Linked DNA regions of Homo sapiens: all the other regions are linked to region 2. Evidence: fine-mapped expression QTL. A gene starts in region 2. Each other region holds a variant in brackets. All regions are shown on one strand. Distances are from middle to middle.

Region 1 (5,000 bases), 340 kb after region 2:
TCACTAATGATCAGGGAAATGCAAATCAAAACCACAATGTGATACCATCTTACTTCTGCTAGAATGGCCATAATCAAAGAATCAAAAAATAGTAGATGTTGGCATGGATGCTGTGAACAGGGAACATTTCTATGCTGCTGGTGGGAATGTAAACTAGTACAACCACTATAGAAAACAGTGTGGAGATTCCTTAAAGAACTAAAAGTAGAACTACCATTTGATCCAGCAATCCCACTGCTGGGTATCTATCTAGAGGAAAAGAAGTCATTATATGGAAAAGATACTTGCACATGCATGTCTATAGCAGCACAACTCACAATTGCAAAATCATGGAACCAACCCAAATGCCCATCAGTCAATGAGTGGATAAAAAAAACTGTGGTATATGTATATATACGATGGAATACTACTCAGCCATAAAAAGGAATGAATTAATGGCATTTGCAGTGTTCTGGATGAGATTGGAGACTATTATTCTAAGTGAAGTAACTCAGGAATGGAAAACCAAACATCGTATGTTCTCGCTTATAGTGGGAGCTAAGCTATGAGGATGCAAAGGAATAAGAATGACACAATGGACTTTGGGGACTCAGGGGGAAAGGGGGAAAGGGGGTGAAGGATAAAAGACTACAAATAGGGTGCAGTGTATACTGCCTGGGTGATGGGTGCACCAAAATCTCACAAATCACCACTAAAGAGCTTACTCATGTAACAAATATTACCTGTTCCCCAATAACCTATGGAAATTTAAAACAAAAGAAAAATAATGAGTCAAATTATCTTTCTTCACTGATGATATGATTATATACCTAGAAAACCCTAAAGACTCTATCAAAAGGCTCCTAAAACTGATAAATGACCTCCGGGAAAGTTTCAGGACACAAAATCAATGTACACAAATCAGTAACATTTCTATACAACAATAGCATTCAAGCTGAGAGCCAAATCAAGAACATAATCTCATTTTACAATAGCCGCTCCAAAAAAAACACCCCCAAAAAAACAAACCTAGGTACACATCTAGTTAAGGAGGTGAAAGATCTCTATGAGGAGAACTACAAAATGCTGCTGAAAGAAATCATAGACAACACGAACAAATGAAAAAACATTCTATGCTCATGGATTGGAAGAATCAATATTATTAAAATGGACATAGCCCAAAGCAATCTATAAATTCAACACTATTCCTATCAAGCTACCAATGTCATTTTTCACAGAATTAGAAAAAACTTCTGAAATTAAATATCCATAGCAATCCTAAGCAAAAAGAGTGAAGCAGGAGGCATCACATTACCCAACTTCAAATTATTCTATAAGGCTACAGTAACCAAAACAGCATGGTACTAGTACAAAAACAGACACATAGACCAATGAAACAGAATAGAAAACCCAGAAATAAAGCTGCACACCTGCAACCATCTGATATTCAAAAAAGTTGACAAAAATAAACAATGGATAAAGGACTGTATTCAGCAAATGGTGCTGAGATAGCTGGCTAGCCATAACCAGAAGAAAAAAAAAGGACCTCGACATTTCACCATATATAAAAATTAACTCAAGGTGGATTAAAGATTGAAATCTAAGACCTCAAACTATAAGAATCCTCAAAGAAAACCCAGGAAATACCATTCTGGACATTGGCCTTGGGAAAGAATTTGTGACTAAATTCTCAAAAGTAATTGCAGCATAAACAAAAATTGACAAGTGTGATCTCATTAAACTAAATAGTTTCGGCACAGCAAAAAAAATGATCAACAGATTTAATAGACAACTTACAAAATGGGAGAAAATATTTGCAAACTATTCATCCAACAAAGGTCTAATATCCAGAATCCATAAGTAACTTCAACAATTCAACCAGCAAAAAACCAAACATTCCCTTTAAAAGATAGGCAAAAGACATGAACAGACACTTCCCAAAAGAAGACAAAAAAGTGGCCAACAAAC[A/G]TAATGGGAAAATGCTCAACAGAGAAATGCAAATCAAATCCATGATGAGATACCATCTGACACTAGTCAAAATGGCTATTGTTAAAAAGCCAAAAATAACAGATGCTGGCAAGCCTGTGGAGAAAAGAGAATGCTTATACACTGTTGGTGGGAATGTACGAATTAGTTTAATCACTGTGGAATGCAGTTTGGAGATTTCACATAAAACTGAAAACAGAACTGCCATTTGACCCAGAAATCCCATTACTGAATTATAACCAAAGACAAATAAATCATTCTACCAAAAAGACACATGTACTCATATGTTCATCACAGCACTACTCATAATAGCAAAGACATGGAGTCAATCTAGATGCCCATCAATGTTGGCCTGCATAAAGAAAATATAGTACATGTATACCATGGAATACTATGCAGCCATATAAAGGAATAAAGTCATGTCCTTACCTAAGCAAATTAATGCAGGAACAGAAAACCAAATACCACAGGTTCTCACTTATAAGTGGGAGCTAAGCATTGGGTAAACATGACATAAAAACGGGAACAATAGACACTGGGGCCTCCTAGAGGAAGGAGAGAGAGAGGGGAGTAAGGGCTGAAAAGTACTAGGCTATTGAGTACTAGGCTCACTACCTGGGTGACAGGATCATTTGTACCCGAAACCTCAGCATCATGCTATGTACTCACGTAACAATCCTGCACAGTACCCTGTGAATTGAAAATAAAATCTGAAATTATAAAATAAAATTTCAGAAAGAAAGAATAAAATAAAATAAAATGTCCTAAGGATTTTGTATGTTTAAGAAGGGGGCAAAAATATTAATTCATGTTAGATTTTGATAAATGATATTCAAAAGCTAATTTTAGAATGACTAACAAAGTAAAAATAATATAGCATAAAATTTCCTTACTAGCTGGGTGTGGTGGCTCATGCCTGTAATCCCAGCACTTTGGGAGGCTGAGGCAGGAAGATCACCTGAGGTCAGGAGTTTGAGGCCAGCCCGGCCAACATAGCGAAACCCTGTCGCTACTAAAAACACAAGAATTAGCCTGGTGTGGTGGTGCTCACCTGTAATCCCAGCTACTTGGGAGGCTGAGGAATGAGAATTGCTTGAACCCAGGAGGTAGAGGCTGAAGTGAGCTGAGATTGCACCACTGCACTCCAGCCTGGGTGACAGAGTGAGACTCTGACTCAAAAAATAAAAAAATAAAGCCTGGGCGAGGTGGCTGTTGACTGTAGTACCAGCACTTTGGGAGGCCGAGGTGGGTGGATCACCTGAGGTCAGGAGTTTGAGACCAGCCTGGCCAACATGGTGAAACCCCTTCTCTACTAAAAATACAAAAACTAACTGGGTGTGGTGGCACGAGCCTGTAATCCCAGCTACTTGGGAGGCTAGAGGCATGAGAATCGCTTGAACTAGGGAGGCGGAGGTTGCAGCGAGCCGAGATCGTGCCACTGCACTCCAGCCTGGGCAACAGAGCAAGACTCTGTCTCAAAAAATAAAATAAAATAAAATAAAATAAAATAAAATAAAATAAAATAAAATAAAATAAAATAAAATAAAATAAAATAAAATAAAATCTCCTAACTAGTAGGGGAAAAATTGAATGAGAAAAAAAATGCAATTGATGCAGGGGAGGACAAGAAAGACCATAGAAAAGGTAGGGCAAATACAAACCACTAAATAAAATTGTCAAAATAAATCTAAATATATTAGTAATTTAAATAAATATAAAGACACATAAAAATCAATTATAGTAACAGTGAACATGCGGAAGCTGACATTAAAAACACAGGGCAATTTACAATAACTCCAAGGAAAATGAAATACTTATGCATTTACTTAACATGTGCAAGATCTATATGCTACAAATTACAAAATGCTGATTTTGTGAAAGTCAAAGAAGACTTAAATAAATGAAGAGATATATCATGTTTATGAACTGGAAGACTCAGTTTAGTAATGCTGTCAATTCTCCCCAAATTGGTCTATAGTTTAGTGTAACTCCTATCAAAATCCCAGCAATATTTTTTTCATAGACCGAGGCAAGCTTATGCTAAAATATATATGAAAAGGCACAGGCCCTGAATAGCTAGAGCAATCTTGATAGAGAAGAAAGACAAAGAAATGGGAGAAACTACTCTACCCATATTAAGCCTGGCTATATAATTACTGTAATCAAGAGAGTGTGGTGTGGGCAGAGGGGTAGACACATGAATCAACGGAGCAGCACAGGATACCCAGAAATAGATTCACACAGTCTGCCACACTGACTTGACAAAGGTGCAAAACCAATTTAAAGGAGGAGGAATAACCTTTTCAACAAATGATGCTGGAACAATTGCATATCCATATGGGGAAAAAAACCCTAGATCTAAATTTCATGCTTTATATAAAAAATGAGCTTAAATTGGATCACAGGCTTAAATGTAAAACAAACCTATAAGACTTTCAGCAAAACACATGGAAGAAAGTTGTCAGGATCTGGCGCTAAGCCAGTAGTTGCCAGACTTGACACCAACTGCATGATCCATAAAAAGAAAAACTGATGAATTGGACCTCCCTGAAATTAGAAATGTTTGTTCTGTGAAAGCCATATAAAGAGGATGAAAAGGAAAACTACACACTCAGGAGAAAATATTTGCAAGTCATATGCCTTAGTCCTTTTTTGCTGCTATAACAAAATACCTCAAACTGGGTAATTTATAAAGAACAGACATTTATTTTTCACAGCTCTGGAGGATGGGAAGTCCAAGATTTAATCACCAGCATTTGGTATCTGGTGAGGCCCCCATCTCCACTTTCAACCAAGATGGAGCCCTGTTGCTGCATCCTCTTGAGGGGACAAATGCTGTGTTCTCAAATAGCTGAAGGGATGTAAAGGGCAAAAAGGGCCTAAGCTAGTTCCCTCCAGCTAGGCACCAATTCATTCATGAGAGCAGAATCCCCCTGATTTAATCACTTCCCCAAAAGACCCCACCTCTCAATACCATCATAATGGGGATTAAGTTTCAACACATGAATTTTGGAGGGAATGCCATCTTTCAAATC
Region 2 (5,000 bases):
TGCCCAAGGTCGCTGAGGTGGCCTGCATGTAAAGACTGGTCCATGCTGGGGTATAAAGGCCCACCAGAACAACTCAGAACCCAGCCCCAACTCAGAACAACTCTGAAGCATCATCCCACCTTCAGAATCCTCCCTGCAGGGATGCCTGAGGCTTGGTCAATTTCTCCCTCTGCTCAAGCTTGCCTCCCTCCATTCCCTCCCTTTATTTCCTCCCACAAATGTTGACTACAAGAGCACTTCCTAAAAAGCCTCCCTCTGCCTGCTAAACACCATCTCAGAATCTGCTTCTAGGAGGACCCAACCTGTGCAGAAATTTTATGAGCAATTTGCCTGTCCATTAAAAAATACAGCATAGACTTTTTCCAGGTTAGCTGGAGATGGAGTTTTTTTGTATCAAAAAAAGAGAGCTAAACTGAGAAGAGAAGCAAAGGTAGAAGAATAAGGTTAGACTCTCCCTGTATAACTGAATTTGGGATTGGGAATGATATCTTGCTTCTCTATGAAATTTAGAAACTGTCTTTTGAAGTCTTCATCCAGTCACATCCAAGAGTGGTCCAGGAAGAAAAAGGAAAATAAGAATGAAAAAAAAACAAAAAACAAACCTTAAAATTGGATACTTCTTTGTGCCTTGCATTAAGCCTCTATGTTACTGCCCTTGTCCGTATAAGCAACTCTAGATAAAATCCTTTCTTAGACCATCTAATTTATCTCCCCGTGCCATTGTGAAAATCGGGCAGGAATTACTGCGGGAACCAGTGACTGAATGGGCAGTGGTGTCTCGCAGCTGTAACTCAGAGTTTACAAGGGAAGGATGAACAGCAGCCATCCTTCTAAAGGCATTCTTCCTCTCCTCCAGCACAGCTCAGTCTGTGCATGCCTCACCAAGGAGAATGAGGGAAGGCCTTGTTGACTGCCCAGCCCAGAGTGTGAGGAACAGCAGTTGACATGGGCGGCTGGACGGGATAGAAACCAGCATGAACATTTAGTGACACCTAAGGAAGAGGTGAAAATGGGGGAGAAAGCCAAGAACCATCAGACAGCTTCTTTCTGTTCTTGCCTTGGATCTTAGGGGAACGTATGTGTTCAAGGGTGCCTTCCTCCGCAGGGCCTCCCATCCCTTGGCACAAACTTCCAAACGATGAGTAGACATGGAATGGGCTTCTTCTGAAGACTGGGTCACCATCCAACTCAGCCTTCGGAGTAGGCGGTGGGGCTGGGGGAAGAGGACGGAACCATGAGGTCTCTCCATCACTTCCCGGGTGTGTTGAGAGGCAAGCAAATGCGGTGGGTGGGCCTGGGCTGTAGGGCCCCTGCCATTTCGGGAGGGGCCTCCTGGTGTTTAGCTCTGGGATGTGTGAAAATGTGTTGGTGAAAAGCGAGAGGCTTACACAGCCCTTCAGGGGAAGAGGGGCTGGGGCGCTGGGGGCGGCGTCGGGATGAGTGCAGAAGAGACGAGGCCTCTGGACAGCGGAGGAGGAGGGGAGGGCGCCGAGGCGCGGTGCCAGCTGCCGCGCACAGGGGCCCCGCGGCGGAGCCGAGCCGCGGGCACGCTCTGCCCTGTCGGGAGAGCTCCGGGAGCGGCGGGAGGGGCGGAGGGGCGCAGTGGGGCCCGGGCGGCTGCGGCCGCGGAGCCGGGGCACCTGAGGAGGAAGGAGGGTGGGAGCGAGGGAGGGAGGGGACGGGCGCAGACCGAAAGTGGGGAAAGAAGGTGCAGGCAGGCGGGCAGGCGGGCGGGCGCCCTGGCCCAGGGCCGCGGGTGCGGGAGCCCGGCGAGGTCGAGCTGGGCGGCGGCGGGGGCCGCGCCGAGGGAGGAGGGGAAGGCGGAGGCGCGGGGAGCGTGTTTGGGGCGCCGCGGCGGGGAGGGTGGCGGCCGCTGGTGCGCGCGGGGCGCTGTGTATGCGCGCTCCCCCGCTCGGGGAGGAAGATGGCCCAAAAGGGAAAGTTGGGGTGACGCGCGCGGTCCCCGGAGGCTCGGCGGGGGGCACCGCGGCCAGCCCGACGGAGCGGCGGACACACAGGCCGGGGGGCGCGCAGTCCGGGCGCCGCCGCGGCCGCCCCCTCACTGCAGGTGGCAGCGGGTGCGCTGGGTCCCGGCGGCCGCGGGCGCGGGCGGGCGCGCGGGGGAGCCCGGCCGAGGGATGGGCTGCGCCCCCAGCATCCATGTCTCGCAGAGCGGCGTGATCTACTGCCGGGACTCGGACGAGTCCAGCTCGCCCCGCCAGACCACCAGCGTGTCGCAGGGCCCGGCGGCACCCCTGCCCGGCCTCTTCGTCCAGACCGACGCCGCCGACGCCATCCCCCCGAGCCGCGCGTCGGGACCCCCCAGCGTAGCCCGCGTCCGCAGGGCCCGCACCGAGCTGGGCAGCGGTAGCAGCGCGGGTTCCGCAGCCCCCGCCGCGACCACCAGCAGGGGCCGGAGGCGCCACTGCTGCAGCAGCGCCGAGGCCGAGACTCAGACCTGCTACACCAGCGTGAAGGTAAATGCCCCGCGCTGGCACACGCCGTGGGGGCCGTCCGCCCCGTCGGCGGGGCTCGCACGGGTAGGGGGCTCCGGCGGAGTTGGGTGACCGTGAGGCGGTTGGTTTGGAGAGGTTGTCACTAAGGAGGAGTTTACTTTTCATTTGTGGAGATGATGGGAGCCCAGGAAATGTGGTCAGAAAAAGGCCCCTGGAGGGGTCCTGGAAGCGTCCTTAGCTGGTCCTGGGGGACTGGGCGGGGAAGGGAGCGCAGAAGGAAGCAGGTGGGCTGGCCTGTTCCTCCTTGAGGGCAGGAAGGCTGTGGCTTGGTTTATGCAGGAAGAGGGGTGGGGACCATTGAGAGCATTCGGTGGCCAGTCCTGTTGAATGAAATCTGAGCACTGAGCTGGATTTGCGTGCCTTGTAGGTGACTGGTGCAGTTGCAGCACCAGGATAGATAGTGCCCCATATTCCGATTTTTACCTGGGATTACCAGCCAGGCTGGAGTCTCAGCACAGGAACCGAGCGTAGGGATTTGTGAATGAATGAGTGTTCGTGTTTTAAGAGATGTGGGAACGGAGCAGAGTGGAACCTGTTGTTTGTCACTGTAACGTTTCTCTGGGTTGGCTGCATCCTAGACAGAATTGAGAGAACCGGGCCATGAGTTCGGAGTGTCAGCAGAGCCACCGTGAGGGGACGTGGTTTCCAGTGCAGTACAGCTGTCTGAGGATGATTCTGCACATACAACTGATCTTCCCAGAGAGTGGGATTTTGAGGAAGTGGAAAAAATTGTTTAGATGGTTAAAGCAGTCGCTAAATATTTATTTCTTAAAGACAGAAGAAAAATAATTATTTAAATAGTGTCCTCCCGTATGTTCTCAAAGTACCGTTAAATCCAAGAGGCTTTTCATTGTGTAAATCTGGGCACTGGGTCTTTTTTCCTTTCAGCAAACAAGATAACAATGGCATATCCTATTGTACAGAGAGAAAAAAATACTCCTAATGTCAGATAGAATCACAGCCTTTACCTGGTCAATAGGTTACCAAGAACCATTCCATGGATTATTTGTCAAAGACACATTTGTATTTTTAATAGTTAAAAACTTGGTCTTCATTGGATGAAGGCAGCCCACAGTGGAGGAGTGAGGAGAAGGATAACATGTTTTGGCTTCAATCTGGAAGTCCAAAAGTTTTTTAATGAACCTATTTTTTTTTTAACAGCATCTGATTGTTTAACATGAAGCTTGACTGATGTTTGCTTGTGGTTGCAGTGTTTCTCTGGCAGTAATCATAATCACCATTATAGTAAAAACATCGTTTATTGAGCACCTACTATGTGCCAGGAGTAAGCTTTCTCTCCTAACTATTGAATGTTAACAGTGTGATCTTAGCATAGCATGTCTGAAGACTAGAGTCTAGGATTTATGACAGTACAAACCTACCAGTTGCCCATTCGTTACAGAGGCATGTGCTGAACGCTATACTTTGCTTTTGTCAAGCTCTCTCTCTCTCCCCCTCCCTGTTCACACAAAGTTAGCTTTAGGAGCAATTTTCAGGGATGAAAATGTTAAATTTGGTGAAAATATTAAGTTGGGATATTATCAGTAAAGACCATCCTTTTGCCTGACGGTTGAAGACCTGAAGCAGTAGTTCAAAATTGTGACAGCTCATGAACTTTGTGATACTTTTTTTGGTTGCTCCAGAGAAATTGTGAATTTTTGTTTTCTAGAATATCTATAATCTCAGTTTAGTACTTGGCAACTCTAGCTACTCCATGTTTGTTCAGTAGAAGAAAGAATACTGAATGAACCCATTCTGTACATTTTTAATACTTCCCTCAAGAGGCTGCTTAGAGACCAAATGAAGTAAAAACTGAAGGGACAATGAGCCCCAATTATTAGCAGCTTGTATAAACTTGTATTAATCTCATTGCTACTTGGCTTAAGTATTAAAAGGCTTGACCTGGGTAGGAGTTTAACTCATTTTGCTTTATCAAGAAGATTCCCAAATAAGAGCTTAATTCACTCTAACCCATTACTGGGAATGTTGGAAATGAAACCCCTGGTTCATTGACTTAACACTACTTTGCATTGTGTGGATCTCAGAAAGTATATATTTGAAGTGAAATTTGAGACCAGAGTTATTTATGCAAATCTTACAGAATTATTATCACAGAACTGCCCTAATATATTTAATAGTATCCTTTTAGGCCTGTGACTCGGTGTTGTATTGTCTTTTCTCAATCGTAAAGTTCACATGTTCTGTGCCCTTTTGTTGCTGAGATAATTTTATAAAAACTTTACATTCATTTTTTTGTAGACTAAGCATTCTTTTTTTGCCGTAAGAGTTTGAGATAGTTGCTAGGCACGTGGTGGTGCCCCACCCCTTTCCAAAGCACACAGGTGGAAAAATAAAATCTTTACCATTTGGTCCTGTTTACAGTGGTGGAAGGTTGTAATAGTTTCCACCCCCTCCCCCTGGCCATTTTACATCAATTATGAAGTGTATCCTCATTATCTACTTGGCCTCTGGTATTCCCCAGAG
Region 3 (5,000 bases), 290 kb after region 2:
CAATTATAAACACTCTTGAAACAAACATTAAAACACAATGTATCAGCAAAGAAATAGAACATATAAAATAGAAAGAACCAAATGAAAAATTTTACATTTAACATACAATAACCAAAATTTAAAACTCAGTGGATGAACTAATAGCAGAATGGAGAGGACAGAGGCAAGAGTCAGTGAACTTAAATGGAGAAAATCAATAAAACCAAAAGCTGGTGTTTAAAAAGATCAGTGAAATTAATAAGCCACTAGCAAGACTGACAAAGAAAAAAAATAAAAGATAAAAATTAGCAGTATAAGGAATGAAAGCAGGGATATTACTGTAGGCCCCACAGACATTAAAGGGATAATAAGAGAGTATTATAAATAACCCTACACACAAAAATTTAACAACTGATGAAATGGAGTGATTTCTCAAATATCACAAATTACCAAAATCTGTTCAAGCTCAAATAGGTAACCTAAGTAGTCCCATAACCATTTACAAAATTGAATTCATAGTTTAAAATGTTCTTAAAAAGAAATCTTAGGGTTCAGATACCAAATCATAATGAAAATCCCAGAGGATTTCCTGTAGATAGACAAGCTGCTTCTAATAGGTATAAAGAAGGGCAGACGAACTAGAATGTGCTGTGAGACATTACATTAAAAACCAAAAAAGATACTAAAAACTTTAAAATTTGAATCTTGTAGTCCCTGCTCTCAAGAAACATATTTCAGGAGGTTCCAAGATGGACAAATAGGAGCAGTTCCGGTCTGCAGCTCCCAGCGTGATTGACACAGAAGATGGGTGATTTCTGCATTTCCAAATGAGGTACCTGGTTCATCTCATTGGGACTGCTTGGACAGTGGGCACAACCCATGTAGGGCAAGCCTAAGCAGGGCGAGGCGTTGCCTCACCCAGGAAGTGCAAGGGGTTGCAGGATTTCTGTTTCCTAGCCAAGGGAAGCCGTGACAGACTGTACCTGGAAAAACAGGACACTTCTGCCCAAATACTGCGCTTTTCCCAAGGTCTTAGCCACTGGCAGACCAGGAGATTCTCTCCCATTTCTGGCTCAGCGGGCCCCACACCCACAGGGCCTTGCTCACTGCTAGTGTAGCTGTCTGAGATTGAACTGCAAGGCGGCAGCCTGGCTTGGAGAGGAGCATCCACCATTGCTGAGGCTTGAGTAGGTAAACAAAGCAGCCGGGAAGCTCGAACTGGGCAGAGCCCGCCGCAGCTCAGCAAGGCCTACTGCCTCTATAGACTCCACCTCTGCGGGCAGGGCATAGCTGAACAAAAGTCAGCAGACAACTTCTGCAGACTTAAATGTCCCTGTCTGACAGCTCTGAAGAGAGCAGTGGTTCTCCCAGCACAGCGTTTGAGCTCTGAGAACAGACAGACTGTCTCCTCAAGTGGGTCCCTGACCCCTATGTAGCCTAACTGGGAGACACCTCCCAGTAGGGGCTGACAGACACCTCATATAGGTGGATGCCCCTCTGGGACAAAGCTTCCAGAGGAAGGATCAGGCAGCAATATTTGCTGTTCTGCAGCCTCTGCTTGTGATACCAAGGCAAACAGGGTCTGGAGTGGACCTCCAGCAAACTCCAACAGACCTGCAGCTGAGGGTCCTGACTGTTAGAATGAAAGCTAACAAACAGAAAGGAATAGCATCAACATCAAAAAGGACATCTACACCCCATTGGTAGGTCACCAACATCAAAGAGCAAAGGTAGATTAAAACCACAAAGATGGAGAGAAATCAGAGCAGAAAAACTGAAAATTCTAAACACCAGAGTACCTCTTCTCCATCACAGCTCCTCGCCACCAATCAAACAAAGCTGCATGGAGAATGACTTTGATGAGTTGACAGAAATAGGCTTCAGAAAGTTGGTAATAACAAACTCCTCTGAGCTAAAGGAGCATGTTCAAACCCACCACAAGGAAGCTAAAAACCTTGAAGAAAGGTTAGATGAATGGCTAACTAGAATAAACAGTATAGAGAAGATCTTAAATGACCTGATGGAGCTGAAAACCATAGCATGAAAACTTCGTGACACATACACAAGCTTCAATAGCCAATTCAATCAAATGGAAGAAAGGGTATTAGTGATTGAAGATCAAATTAATGAAATAAAGTGAGAAGAAAAGGTTAGAGAAAAAAAAGTAAAAAGAAATGACCAAAGCCTCCGAGAAATATGGGACTATGTGAAAAGACCAAATCTACGTTTGATAGGTGTACCTGAAAGTGATCGGGAGAATGCAACCAAGTTGGAAAACACTCTTCAGGATATTATCCAGGAGAACATCCCCAACCTAGCAAGGCAGGCTAACATTCAAATTCAGAAAAATAGATAACACCACAAAGATACTCCTCAAGAAGAGCAACCCCAAGACACATAATTATCAGATTCACCAAGGTTGAAATGAATGAAAAAATGTTAAGGGCAGCCAGAGAGAAAGGTCCAGTTACCCACAAAGGGAAGCCCATCAGACTGACAGCGGATCACTCGGGAGAAACCCTATAAGCCAGAAGAGAGCGGGGGCTGATATTCAACATTCTTAAAATAATTTTCAACCCAGAATTTCATACCCAGCCAAACTAAGCTTCATAAGTGAAGGAGAAATAAAATCCCTTACAGACAGGCAAATGCTGAGAGATTTTGTCACCACCAGGCCTGCCTTACAAGAGCTCCTGAAGGAAGCACTAAACATGGAAATAAACAACCAGTACCAGCCAGCGCAAAAACATGCCAAATTGTAAAGACCATC[A/G]ATGCTATGAAGAAACTGCATCAATTAACGGGAAAAATAACCAGCTAACATCATAATGATGGATCATATTCACACATAACAATATTAACCTTAAATGTAAACAGGCCAAATGCCCAAATTAAAAAACACAGACCGGCAAATTGGATAGAGTCAAGACCCATCAGTGTGCTATATTCAGGAGACCTATCTCACCTGCAGAGACACACATAGGCTCAAAATAAAGGGATGGAGGAAGATCTACCAAGCAAATGGAAAGCAAAAAAAAAAAAAAAAAAAAGCAGGAGTTGCCATCCTAGTCTCTGATAAAACAGACTTTAAACCAACAAAGATCAAGAGAGACAAGGAAGGCCATTACATAATGGTAAAGGGATCAATTCAACAAGAAGAGCTAACTATCCTAAATATATATGCACCCAATACAGGAGGACCCAGATTCATAAAGCAAGTCCTGAGTGACCTACAAAGAGACTTAGACTCCCACACAATAATAATGGGAGATTTTAATACCCCACTGTCAATATTAGACAGATCAACAAGACAGAAGGTTAACAAGGATATCCAGGACTTGAACTCAGCTCTGCACCAAGCAGACCTAATAGACATCTACAGACCTCTTCACCCAAAATTAACAGAATGTACATTCTTCTCAGCACCACATCACACTTATTCTAAAATTGACCACATAATTGGAAGTAAAGCACTCCTCAGCAAATATAAGAGAACAGAAATCTCAAAAAACTGTCTCTCAGACCACAGTGCAATCAAATTAGAACTCAGGATTAAGAAACTCACTCAAAACCACTCAACTACATGGAAACTGAACAACCTGGTCCTGAATGACTACTGGGGAAATAATGACATGAAGGCAGAAATAAAGATTTTCTTTGAAACCAATGAGAACAAAGACACAACATACCGGACTCTCTGGGACACACTTAAAGCAGTGTGTAGAGGGAAATTTATAGCACTAAATGCCCACAAGGGAAAGCAGGAAAGATCTAAAATAGACACCCTACCGTCACAATTAAAAGAACTAGAGAAGCAAGAACAAACACATTCAAAAACTAGCAGAAGAGAAGAAATGACTAAGATCAGAGCAGAACTGAAGGAGATAGAGACACGAAAAACCCTTCAAAAAATCAGTGAATCCAGGAGCTGGCTTTTTGAAAAGATCAACAAAATTGATAGACTGCTAGCAAGACTAATAAAGAAAAAAAAAAGAGAAGAATCAAATAGATGCAATAAAAAATGATAAAGGGGATATCACCACTGATCCCACAGAAATACAAACTACCATCAGAGAATACTATACCTCTATGCAAATAAACTAGAAAATCTAGAAGAAATGGATAAATTCCTTGACACATACACCCTCCCAAGACTAAACCAGGAAGAAGTTGAATTTCTGAATAGAACAATAACAGGCTCTGAAATTGACGCAATAATTAATAGCCTACCAACCAAAAAAAGTCCAGGACCAGATGGATTCACAGCTGAATTCTACCAGAGGTACAAAGAAGAGCTGGTACCATTCCTTCTGAAACTATTCCAATCAATAGAAAAAGAGGGAATCCTCCCTAACTCATTTTAGGAGGCCAGCATCATCCTGATACCAAAGCCTGGCAGAGACACAACAAAAAAAGAGAATTTTAGACCAATATCCCTGACGAACATCGATGCAAAAATCCTCAATAAAATACTGGCAAACCGAATCCAGCAGCACATCAAAAAGCTTATCCACCACAATCAAGTCAGCTTCATCCCTGGGATGCAAGGCTGGTTCAATATACGCAAATCAATAAACGTAATCCATCACATAAACAGAACCAACAACAAAAACCACATGATTATCTCAATAGATGCAGTAAAGGCCTTCGACAAAATTCAACAGCCCTTCACGCTAAAAACTCTCAATAAACTAGGTATCGATGGAACGTATCTCAAAATAATAAGAGATATTTATGACAAATCCACAGCCAATATCATACTGAATGGGCAAAAACTGGAAGCATTCCCTTTGAAAACCAGCACAAGACAAGGATGTTCTCTCTCACCACTCCTATTCAACATAGTGTTGGAAGTTCTGGCCAGGGCAATCAGGCAAGAGAAAGAAATAAAGGGTATTCAATTAGGAAAAGAGGAAGTCAAATTGTCCCTGTTTGCAGATGACATGATTGTATATTTAGAAAACCCCATCGTCTCCACCCAAAATCTCCTTAAGCTGATAAGCAACTTCAGCAAAGTGTCTCAG
Region 4 (5,000 bases), 28 kb before region 2:
GGACTCTGCAATGGGGCACCCACCCCTACCCCTACCCCTACCCCAACCCCCACCCCCACCACCATCCCCACCCTCACCCTTGCACTAAGTTCTAGGGACAACGCTAGCTGGGTGAATAGACGGAGCGTGGACTAAACCACCCGCCTCATCCCCTGTGGGAAGGGATGTTTGGAGGTGGAGCAAAGCAAAGGAAGAGCTGGAACGTGTGTACAAAGAAGGGTCCCACGCTGCGGGGTCGCAGGAAAGTGCCCGGGAGAACAGTCTGTGGTAGGGAGGGACGCTTAGTGCAAGGGGGAAGCTGCGCAGGCGGCGCTGCCACTCTGAACTTGGGGGCGTTCCGCTAGGCGTTCAGAGTGTCCTCTGAAACGCACCTAGTTACCAGGATCAAAGTAGCTGTGCTCCTAAGGACTGTTGGGAGAGGTGAGGCTTGCAGCAGCCTTTACAAAAGCTTGGCTAGAAGCCTTGAACCGTCCACAGGCTCCTCTATACCCTCAAGACTAGCTGTGCCCATCCATTCTGCTTCTGGCTCAATCTGACACCAGTTTACCCGTCCCCAGGTTGCCAGCTCCAGAAAAACACTGCTGGCGGCGAGGTGTGAGTTACTAGGACTGTAAGACCTCCGCAGTTGAGTGGTGGTTATTTGCCCAGGCTGCCTTCCATGGACGGTCGGTCGGGAGGTCAGGGTGGCTGGGGGCATGCTGGCTCTGATAGTTACAAGTGCTTCTGTCTGAACCTGAAGTTGGACGTGCAGTGCTAACCTAGAAGAGAGAGTTCCTCTAAACTGTGTGTTGGGAGACAATCAACGAAAACATTTACACAAGGTCCCCAGGGGAGGCGAGGGCCAGAGGACCCGCCCTCTCGGATTTTATAACCCAGCAGTTCGCATTGCCAGTTCTACTTGACTGCCCTCTTGACCTTGAATAAGTTATTTTAACTTTGTAGAGGTTCGGTTTTCCAAGAAGCAAAAACAGAAGAATGACAATTCATCAGCAGTGGCAAGAGCATGGATTGGAGGCCAGGGAGTTGGATTCCAAGCTCAGTGGTACCACTGACCAGTTGTGAAACTCAGGGCAAGAGGTACAACCTGTCCTGGCCTCAGCTGCCAGGAAGGCTCAGAGCCTTTAATTCTGGATTCCACTCTGGCAGTAATCTGCCAGACTTAGCCTGTGAATGCTCACTAGTTCTTTGCAGTCTTGCTACAGATTGTACTTGGTTCCAAAGAGCGTTTATGGACGGAAGAGATACTAGATCAGTGGGTGAATTGAATTTTAATTCCAATCTGTTCATAGGGCTACACAAATCATTCAGGCTTAAAGATAGGTGGAAGTAAGCCTGACTGGTTTAGTTAATGCTTAGAATGCACTGGGAAGGATCTCACATAGAAAGTCCTGGTAAAGTTTGAGCTTGGTTATATAATCCTGGAAGACATCCTTTCTGTGCATTTGAAAGATTCCAGCCACAACCTCCCTGTTACAGGCATGAGTAGAGGGGAAGCCCCACACTAACCCCTCAGTGGAAGACAGCCCAGTCTTGCAGAGCTCATGGAGGCCGCTTACATCATATCTGATAAACAATTGACTTACCTGGGAATGACTCAGTTAATGTCAACTTCTCAGAAAAGCAGCTTATCAGTTTGGTAATGAAATAGTTAAATTGTCTTTAAAAGCTGTATTAAATATTGGATGCCTAATTGCCAGAGCTTATTGAGATAAGCACTGCTTTTTTTTTTTTTTACTTTATATACACATCTTATTTTTATTTATGGAGAATCAGTTAATAAACACATTTTAAATTCAATATATTATGTATTTGCTTTTTTGATAACACTGCTCTTTAGCTTTTTAATTTAGCTTTAGGAAGGGAAATAAGCAGGATGACAATTTTTTTTACTAGATAATTATTATAAGAGATTAAAAAGCCACAAAGAACCTTGTTTCTTCAGGTTTTCAGAGATGAATATCAACATAATGGTGAAAATTTTTTAAGTACTTAGGCGCTAGGCATTGGACTAAGCTCTTTATGTAAACACTATCATGTAATCCTATCAACACCTTCTGAAGATGTGCTATTATTATTATTATTATTATTATTAATTATTTTGAGACAGAGTCTTGCTCTGTTGTCCAGGCTGTAGTACAGTGGTTTGATCTCGGCTCACTGCAACCTCTGCCTCCCAAGTTCAAGTGGTTCTCCTGCCTTAGCCTCCCGAGTAGTTGGGGCTACAGGTGCGCACCACCAGGCTTGGCTAATTTTTGTATTTTCAGTAGAGACAGGGTTTCACCATGTTGGTCAGGCTGGTCTCGAACTCCTGACCTCATGATCCACCCGCCTCGGCCTCCCAAAGTGCTGGGATTACAGGCATGAGCCACTGTGCCTGGGCGCTACTATTTCTTTAAATTTTACAAATGGGAGAGCTGAGACTTCTCATCTTAGATGACACAGCTAGTAGGTGGTGGAGCTGAACCAGCCAGCTGGGTGTATTTACAATGATCCAAGCGACATGCAAGAAGGAAGAAAAGGGGAGGGCAAAAAGTGCCTACTACGTGTCAGATGCTTTATACACCTCAGTGCATAGAGATTTAAAAATCTTTTATGAGTGATAATTTTCTTTTCTTTTTCTACTTGGACTTTCTTGCTTTCATCAACATGATCTGGGTGTCTTTTCATGTCAGCAAAGAGATTGACTCCTTTATTTTTAACTCTGTAAGCTTGAGAGCAGATGGGTAAACCGTAATTTATTTAACCAATCCCTGTGAATGGGCATTTGGATTATTTCTCAGTTTTCACAGTCACATACAGTACTTGTGAAAGATCACACAGTGGATCCATTTATTTATATATTTCTGCATACCTGTTTAGATATTTCTGGTGAATCTGTTCCTAGGGGTGGAATTATTATGTGAAAGATCATGGTTACTATTTAAATACATACTTTTTTTTTTTAAAAAAAAACAGAATCTCCCTCTGTTG[T/C]CCAGGCTGGAGGGGAGTAGTGCATTATTGGCTCACTGCAGGCTTGACCTCCCCATCCAAGCAGTCCTCCTGCCTTAGCATCCGGATTAGCTGGGACTATAGGCGTGCGCCACCATGCCCAGCTAATTTTTTAATTATTGTAGAGACAGAGTCTCACTGTGTTGCCCCAGCTGGTCTCAAACTCCTAAGTTCAAGTGATCCTCCCACTTCAGCCTCCCAAAGTACTGGGATTACAGGTGTGAGCCACCGTGCTGGCCAGATATATACTTTTAAATACATACTGCTAACTTGCCTTCCCTAAATGAAATGTAATTTCTGATTTGGGGTCCAATTCTTCCACTAACATGTTTTTGGAGTTTTGATAAATCATTTAATCTGAGAGGGTCTCAGAAGTATTGTCTATAAACTATGGATGGTAGGACTTGTTGGTTGCCAAGGTCTTTTCCAACCGTAAGGGTCTGCAAATATGTGCAGTTAGAGGTCACACAAATGAAACTGTCCATATTTGACCATTTTTTGCCTACAAAAACAACAACTTAGTATGATTTTATCTAATATCACATGAATTCCTAAAATATCTGTTTTTGGTACCCTGGCTTTTCTGAGGTAGCTTTATGTGTGAGAAGTGGCTAGGCTATGCTGCAGCCACAAATCAACCCTGAAACCTCAGTAGCTTAAAAAATAGAAAGAGGCTGGGCATGATGGCTCACACCTATAATCCCAGCACTTTAGGGGGCTGAGGCAGGAGGATTGCTTGAGGCCAGAAGTTTAAGACCAGCTTAGGCAACATAGTGAGACCCTTCTTTAAATTTTTCAAAATAAAAATAAAAATAAAATAATAAAATAAAAATGAAAAATAAAATATAAAGATTTATTTGTCACTCACATTTTATGTCCAAAGCAGGTTAGCAGAGTGCCCTGCTCCACAGAGGCACTCAGGGCACCAGGCTATCAGAGCTCTGCCATCTTGTAACTGCACTATCTAGAACATGCAGTCTTGATGGTCCTATGGCAGGGGAGGAAACAGAGACAGTGGAGAATCAACACCTGCTTGTAAATGCCTTGGCTCAGAAATGAAGCATATTTCTTGTATTTACAGTCTTTTGGTAAGAACTAGTCACACAGACCTCAACCTGATGCGTGGAGACAAGGAAATGCTTTTCAGTGTGTCCAGAAAGAGAAAATGGTAAATACATAGCACTCTGTATTAGTTTGCTAGAGCTGCCATAATAAAGTACTAAAGACTGATAGCTCACACAACCGAGATTGACTTCTTTATAGTTCTGGAGGCTAAAAGCCTCAGAACTATAAGGTATCAGCAGCATTGGTTAATTCTGAGGACCTCTCTTCTTGGCTTGTAGACGGTCATCTTTTCCCTCTGTCTTCATATGGTCTTCCCTCTGTGTGTCTATGCCCTAATCTCTTCTTACAAAGACACCAGTCATATTGGATTAGGAGCCATGTTAATGACCTCATTTAAAATTAATTCCTCTTTAAAGACTCTATCTCCAAATACAGTTACATTCTGAGGTACTGGGAGTTAGGACTTCAACCTAAGAATTGTGTTGAACACAATTCAGCCCATAACACATTGTCTCTGTCAGACAGCACATCCTGAGATGTAGTCATGCTGTTTTCATTGGAGGGGGCCTGTAGGTTACTGAGCCATGTTATGGAGTCATCTTCCTCTTCACCTCACATCCATCTCCTCCTGTCCCCCCACCCCCTGCCATTTCCTAACCCAAAACTGTTATTTTTCTGAATTCCCTGGGTAATATTTAAAGCGGCCCAATGTTACTACTTACATCAAGCAAATTTTATTGATGGCATTGACTGTAATGTGAAGCCGAGTGGCTGTGGGTTAGAGATGGGAAACCTAGGGGTTAGGAGCACCAACTCTGAAGCAGACTGCCTGGGTGCTAATCCCAGCTCCATTGCTTGCCAGTAGTATTCCTCATCTGTCAAATGGGAATAGTAATACTTCCCTTGCAGGGTTATTGTCCTGATTAAATGAGATAATCTATGTAAAG

Direction of the effects. Alleles are on the strand shown, and positions count from the first base shown. SD is a standard deviation of normalised expression in the study named.
In carriers of allele A in region 1, the expression in cerebellar hemisphere of the gene that starts at base 1,893 in region 2 tends to be higher than with G alone (moderate effect, 0.40 SD a copy in GTEx).
As copies of G replace A in region 3, the expression in lymphoblastoid cells of the gene that starts at base 1,893 in region 2 goes down (large effect, 0.86 SD a copy in GTEx).
With allele C in place of T in region 4, the expression in lung of the gene that starts at base 1,893 in region 2 is higher (small effect, 0.33 SD a copy in GTEx).

The links. PIP is the estimated chance that this variant, and not a neighbour inherited with it, causes the effect.
Region 1: its variant is the best candidate, but not a certain one, in a credible set for the expression of PDE8B in cerebellar hemisphere (GTEx, PIP 0.57).
Region 3: its variant is the best candidate, but not a certain one, in a credible set for the expression of PDE8B in lymphoblastoid cells (GTEx, PIP 0.74).
Region 4: its variant is the best candidate, but not a certain one, in a credible set for the expression of PDE8B in lung (GTEx, PIP 0.58).

Annotation. Positions count from the first base shown.
Region 1 is chr5:77,548,537-77,553,536 of GRCh38, forward strand. It overlaps a transcript of WDR41 not described here. Among named protein-coding and RNA genes, the nearest start is that of WDR41, 59 kb to the left of the region's middle. The variant A/G (reference allele first, on the strand shown) is at 1,948.
Region 2 is chr5:77,208,788-77,213,787 of GRCh38, forward strand. It overlaps PDE8B (phosphodiesterase 8B), which reads left to right and starts at 1,893. Exons shown (of 22, transcript NM_003719.5): 1 at 1,893-2,477. The coding sequence starts at 2,139.
Region 3 is chr5:77,500,185-77,505,184 of GRCh38, forward strand. It overlaps a transcript of WDR41 not described here. Among named protein-coding and RNA genes, the nearest start is that of WDR41, 10 kb to the left of the region's middle. The variant A/G (reference allele first, on the strand shown) is at 2,750.
Region 4 is chr5:77,181,038-77,186,037 of GRCh38, forward strand. It overlaps a transcript of PDE8B not described here. Among named protein-coding and RNA genes, the nearest start is that of PDE8B, 27 kb to the right of the region's middle. The variant T/C (reference allele first, on the strand shown) is at 2,971.